Linked DNA regions of Homo sapiens. The protein of the gene in region 2 interacts with the protein of the main gene of each other region in a pairwise test. Each region holds a gene or a part of one and is shown on either strand. Other genes may lie near its edges.

Region 1 (4,709 bases), on a different chromosome or scaffold from region 2:
TGTGTATGTACATTCCTGGTGTCCCTTTGTGTGTCCTAATTCCCCCTTTTTACAAAGATACTACTCAGATTGGATTAGGGCCCATTTTAATGGCCTCATTTTAACTTAATCCCCTCTTTAAAGGCCCTGTCTCCAAAAACAGTCATATTCTAAGGCACTAGGGGTTACGGGTTCAACATATAAATTTTAGGGGGACACAGTGCCACAATGTAACCCATAATAGAGGTCAGACAGGTAAGATACATGTAGTTGTGATGGAAACCAACTCTGGATCCTTCAAGTCTTTGATCCTGTACTAACTGCAGCAGTCATTCCAAGGATGTGGTATTGCTGTGCTTTTCTGTTTTGGTGGATTTCTGCTTGACTTTCCTACTTAAAAGTCCCAGCTCCATGAGTTAGGAAACTAATATGGTAATGCTGCTAGATGCATTCTATATTTCTATCAATTTTGCTTTCAGAAATGGGGGGCATATAGAGTGAATGTGTGTGGGAGAAAGAGAGAGACAGAGAGACGGAAGGAAGAGAGATTTTTAGCATTTAATTACATTTAAATGTAACTAATTTTAAATTAACTTTTTGAGTTTAAATTTTTTTCAAATTAAAAAGTTTAATGCTTTTCATTTTTTAATTTTAAAATGTAATTATAATTTTGGAGTGAATGGTTTTATATCATTTGTTGATCTCTCTCAACATTGGGCAATCAATACTTATATTTGTGTTAAGTAACATTTTATAATTTATATAACATATTTTTCATCTTAAAAATAATTACGGTCAAAGATTTTGTAAAATAGTTTTTTTAAAAACAATTTTGTGGCTGGGCGCGGTGGTTCATGTCTGTAATCCCAGCACTTTGGGAGGCCGAGGCGTGTGGATCACAAGGTCAGGAGATCGAGACCATCCTGGCTAACAAGGTGAAACCCCGTCTCTACTAAAAATACAAAAAATAAGCCGGGCGTGTGGCAGGCGCCTGTAGTCCCAGCTACTCGGGAGGCTGAGAAGGCAGGAGAATGGCATGAACCCGGGAAGCGGAGCTTGCCGTGAGCTGAGATCACGCCACTGTACTCCAGCCTGGGCGACAGAGTGAGACTCCATCTGGAAAAAAAGAAAAAAAAAATTTGTTTTGGAGTTATCAAAAAGATTCACATTTTTTAAAATCCAAAAATTATAGGAAAGAACCAGGTTCAGTAAACCCATTTTCAACAGGTAATAAAAATGAAAAGGAGATACTAATGCTGTTAGGATTTTGAGATGCACAATGCAGACGTCAGGTTCAGGGTGGCTTTGTCTTTATTAGTCAGCATTTGCATCTAGGAAAAGTTTCACATGATTAAATCAAGAGATGCAATACACTCAGGCTTTTCATGAAATTGACATCATTATTACAAATGGTGCTCATTTGAGGCAACTGTGACATTATGCAATGAGAAACATCTGTCCCCTTCCCTCTCAGGTCCCCATGGTGGCCTAGGTTCATGATTACAGCCACCTTTAGGATTAAATACACAAAAGCCTTACTCTATATATGCCCCTTTGACTTTAACATATTTCTCAAAAAGAAGTGCAATAAACTTTTATTCTTTCTTGATTAGATGGAGTTACAATTGCCAAAATAAAAATCCAAGGTCCAATTCTGGTTTTAAAACTAGAAAAGGAAAAAATGTTATTATCAGTAATGACTTTGGGAAGAATTCTTTAACACACAGTGAGGGTGAGTTCTTTTGGAAACAACTGTATTCTATGTTTATACATATTTATATATAAAAGGTGTCCTCATTGGGGGAGGGGGGTGCTGATGCCACCAAGTTCCTTTGAAGCCTTTTCTCCCCCACTGCCAATGCCCGAGGGGAAGGAGTCTTCAATGGCGGCTCAATCTAGCTCTTGCGTTTAGACTTGGATCTCATTCCAATTTAGGCTTTTCTTTCTCTTCTTCCATACCTAGAAATACAGGCAAAGTGTTTTATTTGAGCATCAGATTAAACCACAAGCAGTTTGTTTAATCTGGCTTGCTAACACTACTCACACATCCACTCATCTGCCCTCACTTCTCCCATTCACCCTCCTGACACACCCCCTATTCCCTCCTAGCTAAGAAGGAAAGCCATGCACAACTTTCTCCAGAAACATCCTCAGTGACCTCTCTTCCCCACCCTTTCCACAGAATCAGGACACAGCATCTCTGGGACACACCCAGCTCCTATGGCCTCTGGGAGACAAGGCTTCAAGTTGATTCATGACTTGCTGAGTTTGCATGGAAATCCCAGCTAGACTGCTTTTTAAACCAGCTTCTGGCAACATGAGGTGTGCAACTCATGAGTTTCAAACAGACTTCATTTATTTTTACTTTAGTCCTGTCTCTTCCTAAGGCAAGGACTTTGGATTTTAAAAAGCCATGCTTTTTTTTTTCTTGTTTTCTTTTTAAAGTTCATAGAGAGTTTATTAGCCATAAGAGCTGTTTATTTCCATACTCATGAATCTTAAACTGCAATTCTCTCTCTATTCAACCCAATCCTGGTAGAATCATGTTTTTCTTCCTGAAGGACTTGTATGTACTGGACCAGTAAGAACCTTTGCCTGTTGTCTGTAGAGAATAGTCGATGATGTTTCATGTTCCTGAAGATGAAAATGTTCATCATTTTTAGGAATTATAGTTAAATCTGGCAAGTGCTTCTTGCTTTTTTCTTTTTCTTGTACCTAAACATTTTTTGAATCATACCAAATTCTCAGTTTCTTTGTTTCAATAGCAAAAATGAAACAAAATAACTTAAAATACCACTTTGCAGGTTTTGTTAGTATTCTTTCATAAATTGCAAGCTTTCTGAGGGTAGGGCCCTTCCCTATTTTGTTCCCCAGCACCTAACATAGTGTGTGTGTCTCATTGCAGGAGCTCAATTAATCTTTGCTGAATAAAATTAATAAGCAATGAACACAGAGAAGACCTCAGAAGCCTGGACTAGTGGAAAGCAGAACAAAATATGGGACTCCACAATATGAAAATTATAAAATTTAACCCCAGAGGGTCATAATGTTAGGGCTTACAATAGGAAGGACTCCCCCACCACATAACCCCAGCTCCTGGTATATGTTTTGTGCTGTCAGAGTAGTGGTGGTGGAATGTGGGTAACGTGCTCTGAATGAATGTCCCCAGATGATCTTTTATGTTTGGTTTTCATGGCTAAGGAACTGGCAGAGATCTGGAGCACTTTTTCCAAAGTCCTTCTCAGAAATCCTATGAAGGAAAACTTCAAATTGAGGAGTAAGGACATCTGACGGGAGGAGGAACAGGTTTGAAGGCAAGAAGGTACAACACGCCTTCGTTGTTGGGTAACCACGGAAAGAAGAAAACAGCACAGATTCAGCTCAAACAGCACATGTGTCTTGAACCTCAGCTCTGTCCATATTCCCTCTCCTGTGGAGAAGCTATCAGGGGCTAAGAGCAGTTTGCTTTTCTTTTTAAAGTCTGTTTTTTCCAAAGCGTTCTCCTGCAGATGGGTTGACTTGGCAGCAGTGCTGGAATCTTCAAAAGCGCGGGTGGAGAACGGGGGGTATTCATTGACCTAGAGAGGGAAAATGGCTTCCCACCTACTTTAGTTTGGCAGCTGTGAGGTAGACAGAAAAAATTAGACAGCTGTAAATAATGTTTGCAAGAACCAGAGATAAAATTTCCAGGCAAAGGGCAGGAAGAAACCTATCGCAAAGCGAAGGCAGGATACACTTTTGGGACCAGAGGGGACAAGACTGCAGGGCGCTGAGGGAGTCAGTCACATGCCCTTCCTGCAGGCCGGTGGAGGGCTCCACCAGGGGGCAGTGCTGGGACATCGCTAGACCTGGATGGGCCTGGGGGGAAATGACCTGCACGGGTAGCTGGAGGAGAAGAGGTGCAGGTTTCTGCACACATAGACGTCTCCTGTCTCCCCGCTTGCCTACTTTCTCTGTCCTCACACCAACCTTTTGGTTTTGAAAAGACTCATTTCTGGTCTTACAAAATGTAGCTTTAGTAAGACTGGTCAGATATACCAAAATTGGGATAAAGTCTTAGCTTAAGTAAAGAAATATTTCAGCTGTGAATTGTGTCCCCCCCCGCGCTCCACCCCGCCAAACTGCTACATCGAAGTGCTTAACTCTCAGTACCTCAGATTGGGAGAGAATGCCAAGGGTGTGGCTGGACAGCCATGTGCTAACGAAATTAGGTACGTGACTCACGGATCCAATCAACCTCCACAGTAGATGCCAGAAATAGAGAGGTGGTTATCTGAAAAAGATCCGCGGAGTGCCCTCTTGTCTGACTGCTTGGACCCCCATGACTTGCATGGGAGGCCAATAAGGTTTTTGAGAATTTTATACCAGCAGAAACATTGACAGCATGGACTGAAAGGGACAGAGACAGGATGAAATGAAGGACCAATGGCTTCAAAGATGGTTCAGCGACTGGCTCCTCCTTGGTTGTAGAGGGTAGAACTATTGCCCAGGGCTGTGGGGGTGGGGCTCCTGTGACCCTGTGCCTGGAAGGCAGGGCTATGCATCCCCTCCCCTGTGAGCCCTGAGGACAGAACATCTAGCCAAAGAGGATTATTTTCAAGCCTTAAAATGGAATGGAATTTCCCCCGCTAGCTTCAGACTTGCTTGGGAACCATGATTCTTTCTTTTTTTTTCCCCCTGCAACTTCTCCCTTACAGAATGGGAATGTATATTCTATGCCTGTCCCACCA
Region 2 (5,624 bases):
TTTGGTACCAACAAAATAACTTGCTGAGATTTTTATTGGGATTGTATTTAATCTACAGAGGAAGCTGGGAAGTGACATCTTGACAATATTGAGTCCCTCCATGAAATGGAATATCTCTGTATTTACTTAGTTCTTCTTTGATATCATTCACCAGTTTTGTAGTTTTCCTCATGTAGATCTTATACATATTGTTAGATTTATACCTTAAGTACTTCATTTCAAGGGATACTAATTTAAATAATCATGTGCTTTTAATTTCAAATTTCACTTATTCATTGCCGGTATATAGGAAAACAATTGACTTTGTATATTAACTTTGAATCCTAAAATCTTGCTATAATCCCTTATTAGTTCCAGGAAGGTTCTGGGGCTTGTTTTTGTTTTGTTTTTTGGTCAGTTATTTCAGATTTTCTACATAGATGATCATGTCATCTGTAAACAAAGACAAAGTTTTATTTCTTCTTTCTTCCCAATCTATATATTTTTATTTCCTTTCCTTGTCTTATTGCATCAGCCAGGACTTCCAGTATCATGTTGAAAAGCAGTAGTGATGGGGACACCTTTTTTTTCCTGATCTTAGTGAGACAGCTTCAGGTTTCTCACCATCACGCCATTTAGTATGATGTTAGCTGTAAGGTTTTTTTTTTAGATATTGTTTATCAGGTTGAGGGGCTTCTCCTCTATTCCTGCTTTACTGAGTGTTTTTATCATGAAAGACTGTTTGGATTTTTCTGCATCTGTTGATATGATCATGCAATTTTTCTTCTTTTGCCTGTTGATATTCATTACATTAGTTGATCTTTGAATGTTGAACCAGCCTTATATACCTAGGACAAATTCCACCTGGTCATGGTGTTTAATTATTTTCATATATTGTTGGACTTGATTTGCTAATATTTTGTTGAGGATTTCTGCATCTATGCTTATGACAGGTATTGGTCTGTAGTTTTCTTGTAATGTCTTTGTCTGGTTTTGGTATTAAGGTGATGCTGGATTCATAGAATGAGTTAGCAAGTGTTCTCTCTGCTTCTAGCTTTTGAAAGAGATTGTAGATAATCAGTATCATTTCTTCCTTAAGTCTTTGGTAGAATTCACCAGTGAACCCATCTGGGCCAAGTGCTTTCTGGTTGGGGAGGTTACTAACCATTGATTCAAATTATTTAACAGAGATATACCTATTCAGATTGTCTATTTGCTCTTGTGTGAGTTTTGACAAATTCTATTTTTCAAGGAATTGGTTCATTTCATCTACATTATCAAATTTGTGGGTATAAAGTCATTCATAAAATTCCTTCATTATCTTTTATTATCCTTTTAACCTCCATGGGATTGCTAGTAACGTCCCCGCTCTCATTTCTGATAGTAGTAATTTGTGTTCTTTCTCTTTTTTTCTTAGTTAGCATGCCTTGAGACTTATGGAGCTTATTGATCTTTTCAAAGAATCAACTTTGTTTCTATTTATTTTATTGATTTCCTATTTTCAATTTCGTGAATTTTTAATCTAATTTTAATTATTTCTTCTCATTGGCTTACTTTGGGTTTAATTTGCTCTTTTTTTCTACTTTTTTAAAATGGAAACTTAAATGATTGATTTCAGATCTTCTTTTGTGCTATCTGCATTCAATGTTATAAATTTCCCTTTAAGCATTGTTTTTATTGCATCCCACAAATTATAATAAGCTATGTTTTTATTTTCATTTATTTCAAAATATTTTTTCACTTATCTTGAGATTTCTTCTTTGACCCATGATATTTACACGTGTGTTGTTTAATCTCCAAGTATTTTGGCATTTTCCAGCTACCTTTCTGTTACTGATTTCTAGCTTAATTCCATTGTTATCTAAGAGCAAACATTGTAGGACTTGTATTCCTTTTTTTTTTTTTTTTTTTTTTAAGACAGAGTCTCACTCTGTTGCCCAGGCTGGAGTAGAGTGGCATGATCTTGGCTCACTGCAACCTCTGCCTCCGGGGTTCAAGCGATTCTCCTGCCTCAGCCTCCCAAGTAGTTGGGACTACAGGTGCCCACCACCAAACCTGGCTAATTTTTGTATTTTTAATAGAGATGGGGTTTCAGCATGTTGGCCAGGCTGGTCTTGAACTCCTGATCCCAAGTGATCTGAGAATTTCTATTCTTTTAAATGTGTTAAGGTATGTTTTATGACCCAGAATGCAGTCTAACTTGATGAACATTCCATGCAAGCTTAAGCAAAAAGACTAATCTGCTGTAGTTTCCTCATCTTTTTCAACAAACATTTGAACCCCATAGTCTCTGCTTTAATAATTCTAGTATCCATTCCAACCTACACCACCATCAGTTCTAGACTGTACCTCTACACTAAATGACCCCAGATGGTTCAGCTTTAAGTCTCAGCTGTTTTCATCATTTAACTGATTCCCTTGCTGGCAGCAGGGAAATTAACTACCAGCCACACACTTGTCTCCAACAGCACCCACCGACCACGTCCTGCTCCCCTGTCATTACCACCACTAAACCCGGTAGCAGAGAGATGAGCTGTGAGGTAGGTGCCTTCTAGATAAATGAGGTGCTACTGGACATGCACTGTGGTCTTCTCTGCAGTAGAAAAATGTCCAAGGAAGGTCAGCATCATTGATAGAAAATAAATGTGAGGCTGCATCTCGCCAGCTCATCCATGAGCAATTCCTTCAGCTCCAGCAGGCTACTGACAATTTGCTTTTAACCCAAATCCAGCTCTACCCTCCCTAAAGCATGCACCTAGGGCCCCAGTCAGAAAAACAAAACAAAAACTAAACCAGACAGGATAATTAAGGAGGCAAAAAGCTTAAACCATAATATTTTAATTAAGCTGATTTATTTTAACCGTAGCACTACTGCTTTATTTTAGTTATATACCAGTAATGGAAAATAGTGGCCACTTTTCATTATTAATCATAAGATAATTCATTGTATTTGTCTTTCCTAATAAAATGGCATTATATTAAGGCCCAAAATGTTTACTATGGCCCAGTAAAATATAGGGTTGTTCTGTGAGCTATTTCTTAGGATAGAAAATTATTCCAGAAAGCTATTAGTTCAAAAGTCTCTAGCAGTGCCAAGGTTTCAATAGTCTCTTTAATTTTGAATCTATGCGATTGAAGATAAGACTGCATCTAGTTTGGGGGTTGCATGTTTGTGGACATTCATGTTTCTATGTACCTGGAACTTCTTATTCTCACCATCACACAGAATTTTCAAGAACTAGTTAAGCAAAGAAAGCAAAGCCCAGCAGGTGTCAGAATTGGGTCCCCAAGCTGAGGGTCATTAGGGTGCATGTCAGTGTGCCAACTCCAATATCCACACCTAGAGAACGCACATCTTCCCAAAAGAAATGAAGCACAGATGATACTTGATCCTCAACTTTGTCTCCAGAAATTTTTTCAGGAACTTGAGTTCTTTATCAAATGCTCACATCCTACAGAGAAATAAAGTGTTCCATTTTCAAGGTTCATGAAGCTCGTCAATGCTGGGAGCAGGCACACACTTGTATTTTTATACTCAGGGATCCCAACAGGCAACTAAAACTAGACAAGGACAAAACTCCACTCAAAATATTCTGAAAGTTAGCTGATGCCCCATATTTTATTACTCCAAATGTGTATTCACTTGCCTGAGTGCTGGCCATGAGCACTCAGTGAACACTTGCAGTACAGTGAGTGATGTCCTTGACAAGTTACTATGAAGACTCTGAGAAAAAGTAACATCCCCCACTGTCCTCAACAAGCCTGTAATCCCATGGCTGCCAGCCCTTACCATGCAACAACACTGCGCTAAGTGCATCGAACCACACAAAACCCTGTGAGAAAATACTGCTTCCCACTTCACACGTGAAGTAACTGAGTCTAGTTTTAGAAATACCTAAACGAAGAGGGACAGGCACAACAAATTTGCTGGAATGTAAAGAAAGTAGATCAGTTTCTGCGTAAGCAGTAAGAAATGGCCTCATGAGGAAGAAAGGGACATTTGCCCTGACATTTCTCAAAGACTGCTTAGGTTTTGGAGACAGAGATCCAAGGGCAGGCAAGCACAATGGTTCATGCCTGTAATTCCAGCACTTTGAGAGGCCAAGGTGGGAGGATTGCTTGAGCCCAGGAATTCAAGATTAGCCTGTGCAACACAGCAAGACCCCATCTCTATTTTAAAAAGAGAGAGAGAGATCCAAAAGCAAAGGCATTTCAGTTTGCAAGGCCAGCATGGGAGAGGGTCTTAAAACAGAAACACACAAGGTAAGATTGGGGGATGGTACCTAGACCAGCCTAGGATCATAGGATTTGATAAAATATGCATTTGGAAAACTGGTGCTAATTTATAGAGACTTAGAATTTCAGGCTAAGGACAAGGACTAAGAAACGAATAGCATGAACAGTATTATTGATAAACCCATCATTGCATCTTAAAGGCTCTGAAGTCTTTAGTATTGAATTAAAAAATAATTTTCACTGGACAAAACCAAAAGGTCTTTACACAACTGTCAAGCACTTTGAAATGATTCAGCAAAAAGCAGAATAAATCACTAGTGGAATTTCAATAGCATGTAGTTGTAAACCATCATGTGTCCAGCAAAATCACAAAACAAGAGTTTATTTTAGAAGGGACTTAGGGATATTAAGAAATATAACATACAAAATAACTAAAGTTTTCTCCAAGCAAAACCAATGATCCTTTAGGGATGAACAGAAAGAAAACAAGAAATGCTTCTTTCAAAAGTTGCTACCAAGGCTTCTAAGATTTCTTTGGAATAAAGTCACTAAGATTTGCTTCTGAGGTCAATCTTGCCAACTTTTCCACCATGCTTTTTAGGAAGGAACACCAGGTAGGGCTCAAGTACTGGTTTGGCTCCTGTCCCATTTTTTGGTCCTTTTGTAACTCCCTTTACTCAACTCCAAGTATGTCTGTGCACGGACAATGAGACGAAAGCATGCTCAATGCGAAAGCACAAATTATGTATTGAGAAATCACTACAATGCCAAATTTTTTTAAAATAAAAAAAAAATATATATATATATATATATCTTTAAGAACTCGCTGTGTTAGGGAAACTGTTTACATATTGAGGTGTTCCTCTTTTTTTGACTGGAACAATAAAAGAAAAATTTGATATGGCCTTGGTTTCTTTTTTATGTGTGTCTGTGTCCAAAGAAGTCGGCCTTTTCTACAAGTGAGAGCATGAATTGTTTCAAAGCGCAACACCCTGCCCCAGGGCCACTCAAGATGTCAGGCATATCAGGCATAACCCAAGGATAGTACCATGGGTTTGGAGTGATCTTCTCTCTTCTTCCCTCCCACTCTTCCTCTCTCTCCATCTCTTTCTTTCTCTCCCTAACTCTCTTGCTCCCTTTCCTCCTTCTCGCTCTCCCCCTCCTGTCTCTTTCCCCATCTCTCCCACAATGTTCTGCCTATGGCCAGATCCCAGCAATGGGTCAGCTCCGCTCCTTTCCACACCTACTGACCCAAGTGGGACTCCTTTGATACCTGTTTGTACCTTGCACTTCATGGAACTTGAAAAAAACGAAAGGGAATTAGGGACTTGCAGAGCAGTTGATCCTGCCCCTTGTCACAGCTCTAAGAGTCTTAATAAAAGGAGTTTGATCATTCATGATAAAGTTCC
Region 3 (6,713 bases), on a different chromosome or scaffold from region 2:
CTAAAGTGAACTTTTGAAAGCACAATTCTGGGAATTGTTTTCTCAAGTATACTAGTAAAATAAAGTAAAGTATTCTCTTTTTGCTTTCTTATTTTAAAATTATGGTATATCATTGCACACAATCAGCTAGTTGGAGGGCTTACCTAGGTGTTAAATGGTTAATAGAGGTTACAGTGTAAATGAAAACATCCTTTAATCTGGTCGTTGTGTCACATTTCTAACATTTCCATTTTCTTCCTTCTCTCACATCATTTACATATCAGTGTTTGCATGATTACAGCGGTTTTTTCTAATATTATTTGAGCTCTAAATGTTCCCTAAAAGCTACTCTATGTCATTGTGACTGGCGCTGTTTCCTAGTATGCCTGATAGTGTGGAGGGGTAAGATTCCTTTTTTTGTTTTTGTCAGTGATAGCAGCTGTCAACCCCCAAAACACTGAAAAACTGATATTAATACTGTTTTTGTCAAAGCAAGGGCAAGGCACTTCAGAAGTGAATAAATCTAGAACAGCCAACACTGCAGTCTCTTGAGCAGTTTATTTGTTATAAATACAAGTCAATACCACAAGATGGCACCTTTTTACTTTCAACACCTATGATTACAAACAATTATCTTCATAAAATGGTCTCAGCTTTTTAATGTGTTGTTTTAGATATTATTGAAACCTTATAAAAGCAAGACTTTGTACAAACAGGATCGGTGTTTGATGTATATTAAATGAGGTCAGATAATTAAATTTGAAAGAAGAATTTATAAATATTCAGATAAGAAAATTGAAATTACAAAAGCAGAGTTTGTCATCATTAAACTGAATTACAACTGTGTGTGGTTAATGCTATATCTACATGGATAAGTTTTTGTTAAAATACAGTTTTAGTAATCAAATAATCTACCTCATTCTCCAATTTAACCACATATTTCATTTGTACACTCTAACATTCAGTACACATTCCCTTCAGAAATGACCTAGCTTTCATCTAGTCCAGCAATTACACACACGCTGCTATTTTCAGTAGCTGCAACCCATGAAGCGCCATCATCCCCTGGCTACAAAACAAAATACAATATTTAAAGGTTAAAAACTCAGAGAATTTCTGAAATGGTAATCCATTCTCTCTGTGTTCATGAAAAATAGGCAATCCAATTTGAAAGTCTTTAAACCAAAGTAAACTCTAGAAAACTCAGTGTTGAAGTATGGGAAGAATAAAGACTTTGCACTAATATAGTGCGTAACAATGCAGTGTCAGACTCGTCATTTAGAGTAAATGCCTTGACTGTATTTTCCTCTGGATTGTCATTATGCTGCTGAAGATCAAGTTTACTCAAGTCTGTGGGAATTCCATCATGTTTTCTTCCTCCCAGTTCCAAACAGGAAGAGAAGGGTTTTCAGGTCCCTTGGGAAAACCAAAAAAATAAAACACACCCACAAACAACTTGAAAACAAAATGGCAGACCTAATAATCCTTGACTCCATGTCCAAATGAAGTTGAGGCAATATTACTTTTGCAATATTTGTATTCTGCCCAATATATCACATCTTGAGATTCCTCAAAAAACTGAGAAGTCTGAGAGCTACAAAAGAGAAAGCGGTTAAGGCAGTTGATGTCTACATTTGGATTTCTTTTTCAGATTACATGTCTAAGTCTCCATCGTAGGCTAAGGTCAGAGGCTTCTGTTGGGGAGGTGTGCTTTGATGTGGTTTTGGCTTCTTGCTGCAAAGGGAAAAAAATTCCTCAGATCAAGTAAGTTCATAGAGCTCTGTTTCATCTGCCAAAGACAATTTTGAGATACAGAAATTTAAGCGGTAAAATGACAAAAAGATTCATTTCTCTAGATGTGTGGGTTCCCTTTTGTGAATATTGAATGCTTTCACCCTCTGTTTGTTAAGGAGAAGCCATCATTTTTCACAATCTTAAAATTGGTTTAGTGGAATGAAGGAACTTAGTAGAAGAGTTGTTTTCCTTTTATATTCTTGATGATACACAACAACAGGAACGTCTTTTCTCACTAATTTTTAAGCTATTGTGACCTTCACATCACAGATGCTCAACATCATAAGCAGCTGGAGCAGCCAGGCCTCACCCTGCTGGTCTTGTTTTTAAGTAAACACACTTCTGCTCTGACCTGGAACCTGACATTTAGCTGCCAAGATGCCAGAGTGTGTCAGGAAAATTTAACCAATTCTACTCCGTGCAAAGCCATTCTCACCTGGTCTCTGCTTTACCTGAAGTCCACAACTTTGCCAGGTCAGAGAAGGCTGCTTTTCCTTCTCATGGAGAGAAAAGCTTAAGTTAACAACATTCCCAAATCACACAGTGATGCCCAAGATATGGGGCAAAACACCCTGCAGTACACTTCTTGTTTCTTAGTATGGGGAAATCTTAACTTGTATTTATAAATGCTTGTAACCTTTAATTCTGCCACTTAACTTCTCTCACCACCACACTTATCCTCTCTCCTCAAGGTCTTTGCTTTGCCCTGCCCACACAGCCCGGCTTCATCTCTCTCCCTGTCTCCAACCTTCCATGCTTTTATATTATATTAGCATCTATTGCTTATTCGATGCATACTAAGTGCCAAGATCTGTGCTGAATGTTTTACACAAAATCTCTCAAAACATCCCAGAACAACCCTGCAAGGGAGGCATTAGAATTATTGCTACTTTACAGAGAAGGACTACCAAGGCTGTTTACCTTCCCTTAGGTCACTGAGTGAGTGGCAGAACCTGAATTCTAAGCAAATCTAACACACAGACCTGAGCTTTTAACCTTTTCACCACACTGTCCGCATATATATATATATATATATATATATATATATATATATATATATGGCATTCATTTAGCACTTGGTAGAAATGACATTTTTTGTCTGCACATATGAATTAATTTTTGTATTCTGAGTGAATCTAACGTAAAAAACAAAGATTTTAATCTATACAATTCAGTGGCATTTGGCAGTCACAGCATGTGTACCATCACCATTATCTAGCTCCAGAACATTTTCATCGTGCCAAAAGGCAACTCTGCACTCTTCCAAGCAGTCCCTCCCCCATTTCACCCTGCTCTCAGCCCCTGGTAGCCATTCATCAATTAACTTTCTGCCCAAATAGATTTTGATATCTTAAATGGAATCATGCTGTATCTGGTCTATTGTGTCTGGCTTCTTACACTTAATGGCTAAAATTGTGAATTTTATGTTATGTGAATTTTACTGCAATAAAAAGTTGATAAAATTAAAATGGTTGTAGGGAGAAACTCCTAGTTTAAAATGCTCAAGTTTTAATTTGAGGAGTAAAATTATTTTTTTGATTGATGTTTGAAGCAAATCATACAAGTTAAAGAAATAAATTAAAAATGGTTTTGGCAGAAACCCTAAAAGGAACTGCAGATTCTCTCAGTGCCCCCCACCCTAGCACCTGGCATGCAGCGGGTGCTCATTGAGAATATGCTGAGTGCTGGGCAGAGATGGCTGCAGGCAAACAACTTCCAACCAGAGAAGCTGCGGAGATGCAAAAACAAGATTCAGAATATTCTCCAGAGGGAGCTTCAGCCTTCAATTTCCTGCTTTCCAGGTCCTCTCCAATTTTCAAAAGGGTATTGCTTAATTATCTGAATAACATTCAATTTAACTTTATCTATACTAAGTATGTTCCAGTGACTCTAATTATACTGATGGGCTCAGGCTCTGGCATGAACCCCACTTGACATGGAGTCCTGGGTATACCATTCCACAGCATTTAAAGGTGCTAAGAAATCATGCACACACCAGAGGGTGAGGCAATCTGAAAGTGACAGCCTGTAAAACCTGATGGTGGTGGTGGTGATGGGGTGGGTTGTCTTAATGGCAAAAAAGAGTACAAGGAAGTTCATCTGAAATTACAGTAGGAGTCTTCTCCCTCCCACCTCTCTTGGTTTTCTTTTTTCTGCGGGAAGGGAGCAAAGAAGAAGAGAGGGGTAAGAAATGTAGTTGCTTCCAAAACAGAGATTTTGGCAGTCTACCTTTAATGGGCATTTGCTAAAGGCCACTGGGCAAGGAGAAATTAGACAATCCTAAGCATTGGGGAGTTGAGAATGCAAAGCCAGGAGAACGGCTAGAGGTGGTCATATCTCTATAAAGAGACAATACTATCACCTGGGAGACACGTCAACTTGGCCAGCCTCTATGATCTAGGCTTGGAATATTCTATTCAAAATTTACACAAATATGTTTATACCACTTACCATGTTTGGAATCACGGACACTGTGGCCAGCGGGGGCTACTAATAGGTAGGCCTTGGACCTTTGTGGGCCATGTGGTGTGCTGGGGATCATTGGGATTAGGACCTCATTTATCAAGCATCTTTTCATATTGTGCAACCTCCCAATTGCCAGACACCAAAATCACAGTTACGAATACATGAGATCTGAGAAGTTTTATGGCTTTGAATAGATCAGCCTCCTCTCAAATATTAATCTCTGGACCACTGAACATGGTAGTACTTTGCCGAATAGCAGCTTAGCAAGGCTTTCTGGCCAGTAAAAAAGAACCTCAGGAGGAGGAGCTGAGGGGCAAGACTGCACTCAGCAAGGCCAACACTGAGGAGGCCAGCAACTAGGAGGCTTGTCTTTAGAACCTCTGGCTTGCTTTCCTTTCTCCCTACAGTATCCACATTTTTCCTTTAGAAGTAAGTTTATTTCTTATTTTTTCCTCCTCCACTCTGGTTTCAGAAAAGGTATGTTCACCTCCCTCACTCACTAAATCAGGACCCATAAATGCCTGGCACATATGCCACCAACACCACCAGTCATCCTGTGCCCAGGTGGACATCTCTAATCCATCACTCTATTCTCTCCTGTTGAGCTGAGGTGTAGCCTCATCATTCTTCCTAACAGCACTCTTGACAGCCATAGCCACTTTTAGAGTTGGCACACAGCATAAAACCATTTTGCAATCCTAGCTGTGAAAGATCACTGGCAGACACATTTTAAAGTTACCTCTTTTAGGGTCATTTGCATTTTAGCAAAGGACAAAAATGAATTAAGCCAGAAAAGTGAGCTCATTGTGGACTGACAAGCAAGCCTCTGGCACTTCTCAGCAAGGACTCATTCTCAAGCCAGGAGAGATTAACTAGTTTGATGAAAGCAGCAAACCACATTTTGTTTTGGCAGCCATTTGTGAGAGACAAGCCTTTGGAGGTGCAAGTACCACTCTCAAACTTGGGAAGAATAAGAATGCATTACAGAACTGTGCTGGGCCAGGCAGAATGGACATTATTATCTGGTGTAACTTCCAGGTGCTACATCTAGGTTAACAGCAAGTTCATCCAGTGGTCATCCCCATTAAATTGCTTCATGGATATTTACTGCCAGAGGAGAAGGGGCATCAATAATATTTCTGAAACTCCAAACACTAATGGTAGATGTTCAAAGGCTAGTATTTGAAAGAAGTAGTCTTTAGAAGGCTATTTTTTTGACATTTTCTCAGAAGCATTTTCAAGTTTTACTATAAATTGCTTTCATCTGAAGTATACACCAAAGACCTGGCATATTATAGCAGTTCTCTTGTCCTAAGGCTTCTGTTTTTGGCAAAAATATAAAATCTCTAAAACTGTCATCCTGTAACTCTTCTGCAATCCATTTAATAGAATTAGATGCTGTGAAAATATCTATTTGGGTTTCTTTGGCGGCTCATATGTAACAGTAAAAGGTACGTGTTTTTATAACAATAGGTCTGTAATAGGTCAACAGCTTACTTTACCTGTGAAACAAAAATCCTCTAGGAAATGTGGAAGCTATAGACATTATGTTGAGTCTAAAGAGTTTTGGGCATCACTCAAGAGAAAGAAATCACAATGACTCAAAGACCAGTAGAAAGAGCATGAACTCTAGGGATAGGCAAACTCTAGGGAGAGGCAAACCTGGGGTTGATTCTACCATGCTGGTGACCTCAGAAAAGTTATATAATTTCACTACGGATCAATTACTCTTTAAAATAGGGATGGCAATAGCAACACCTCCTTGAATTATTATGATTGAATAAGGCAATGTATGTAATATTTGACATATAAATATTAGATTTTTTTTCCTATACTGTTTTTCTAAAAATCACGGGCAATAAATTAGTTTATACTAATACATTTTATATATTTGCTCAATAAATCTTTATCAAATTCATGCTTTAAAACAATCCATAAAGCATAGTCATTACCTCTCCCCACCCAAACTCCCTGGAGTTTGATAGAGGAGGAAGATGTTTATATAAATAACTACAATATTATCAATCATGGGGTAACTACCACGACAAAAGAGACATGAACAAGTTATTCCAGACTGTTTAAAAAGGAAAATGTTGGTATTTGAGTTTTACAGGGATTAATGAACAGGTAGAGTACCAATAGCTAGCAAGGGGAAACAAGGAGTAAGCCACAGAAGCAGAAACGTCCTTGGAAAATTAGAGGGGCAGTACCCTAAGTGCCTGATACGGTTAGGCTTTGTTTCTCCACCTAAATCTCATCTTGAGTTGTAATCCCTATAAACCCCATAATCCCCACATGTGAAGAGAGAAACTAGGTGGAGGTAACTGAATCATCGCTTCCCCCATGGTGTTCTCATGATAGCGAGTGAGTTGTCAAAAGATGTGATGGTTTTATAAGGGGCTTTTTCCCCTACTCTCAGCACTCAATCCATTCTGCTGCTCTGTGAAGAAGGTGCCTGTTTCTCCTTTGCCTTG

The links. The genes of interacting proteins can lie anywhere in the genome.
Region 1: the proteins of KCNJ6 (region 2) and AIG1 interact in binary tests that used the Homo sapiens proteins (3 or more experiments, as listed by UniProt).
Region 3: the proteins of KCNJ6 (region 2) and THSD7B interact in binary tests that used the Homo sapiens proteins (3 or more experiments, as listed by UniProt).

The regions. Positions count from the first base shown.
Region 1 is NC_000006.12:143,336,868-143,341,576, reverse strand, and holds the end of AIG1 (androgen-induced gene 1 protein), read right to left. Parts: intron 3,600-4,709; coding exon of another isoform or gene 3,583-3,599; exon of another isoform or gene 1,939-3,582; coding exon 1,901-1,938; 3' UTR 519-1,900; downstream 1-518. UniProt on the Homo sapiens protein: Hydrolyzes bioactive fatty-acid esters of hydroxy-fatty acids (FAHFAs), but not other major classes of lipids. Show a preference for FAHFAs with branching distal from the carboxylate head group of the lipids.
Region 2 is NC_000021.9:37,606,868-37,612,491, reverse strand, and holds the end of KCNJ6 (G protein-activated inward rectifier potassium channel 2), read left to right. Parts: 3' UTR 1-5,119; downstream 5,120-5,624. UniProt on the Homo sapiens protein: Inward rectifier potassium channels are characterized by a greater tendency to allow potassium to flow into the cell rather than out of it.
Region 3 is NC_000002.12:137,671,524-137,678,236, reverse strand, and holds the end of THSD7B (thrombospondin type-1 domain-containing protein 7B precursor), read right to left. Parts: intron 1,714-6,713; coding exon 1,632-1,713; 3' UTR 519-1,631; downstream 1-518.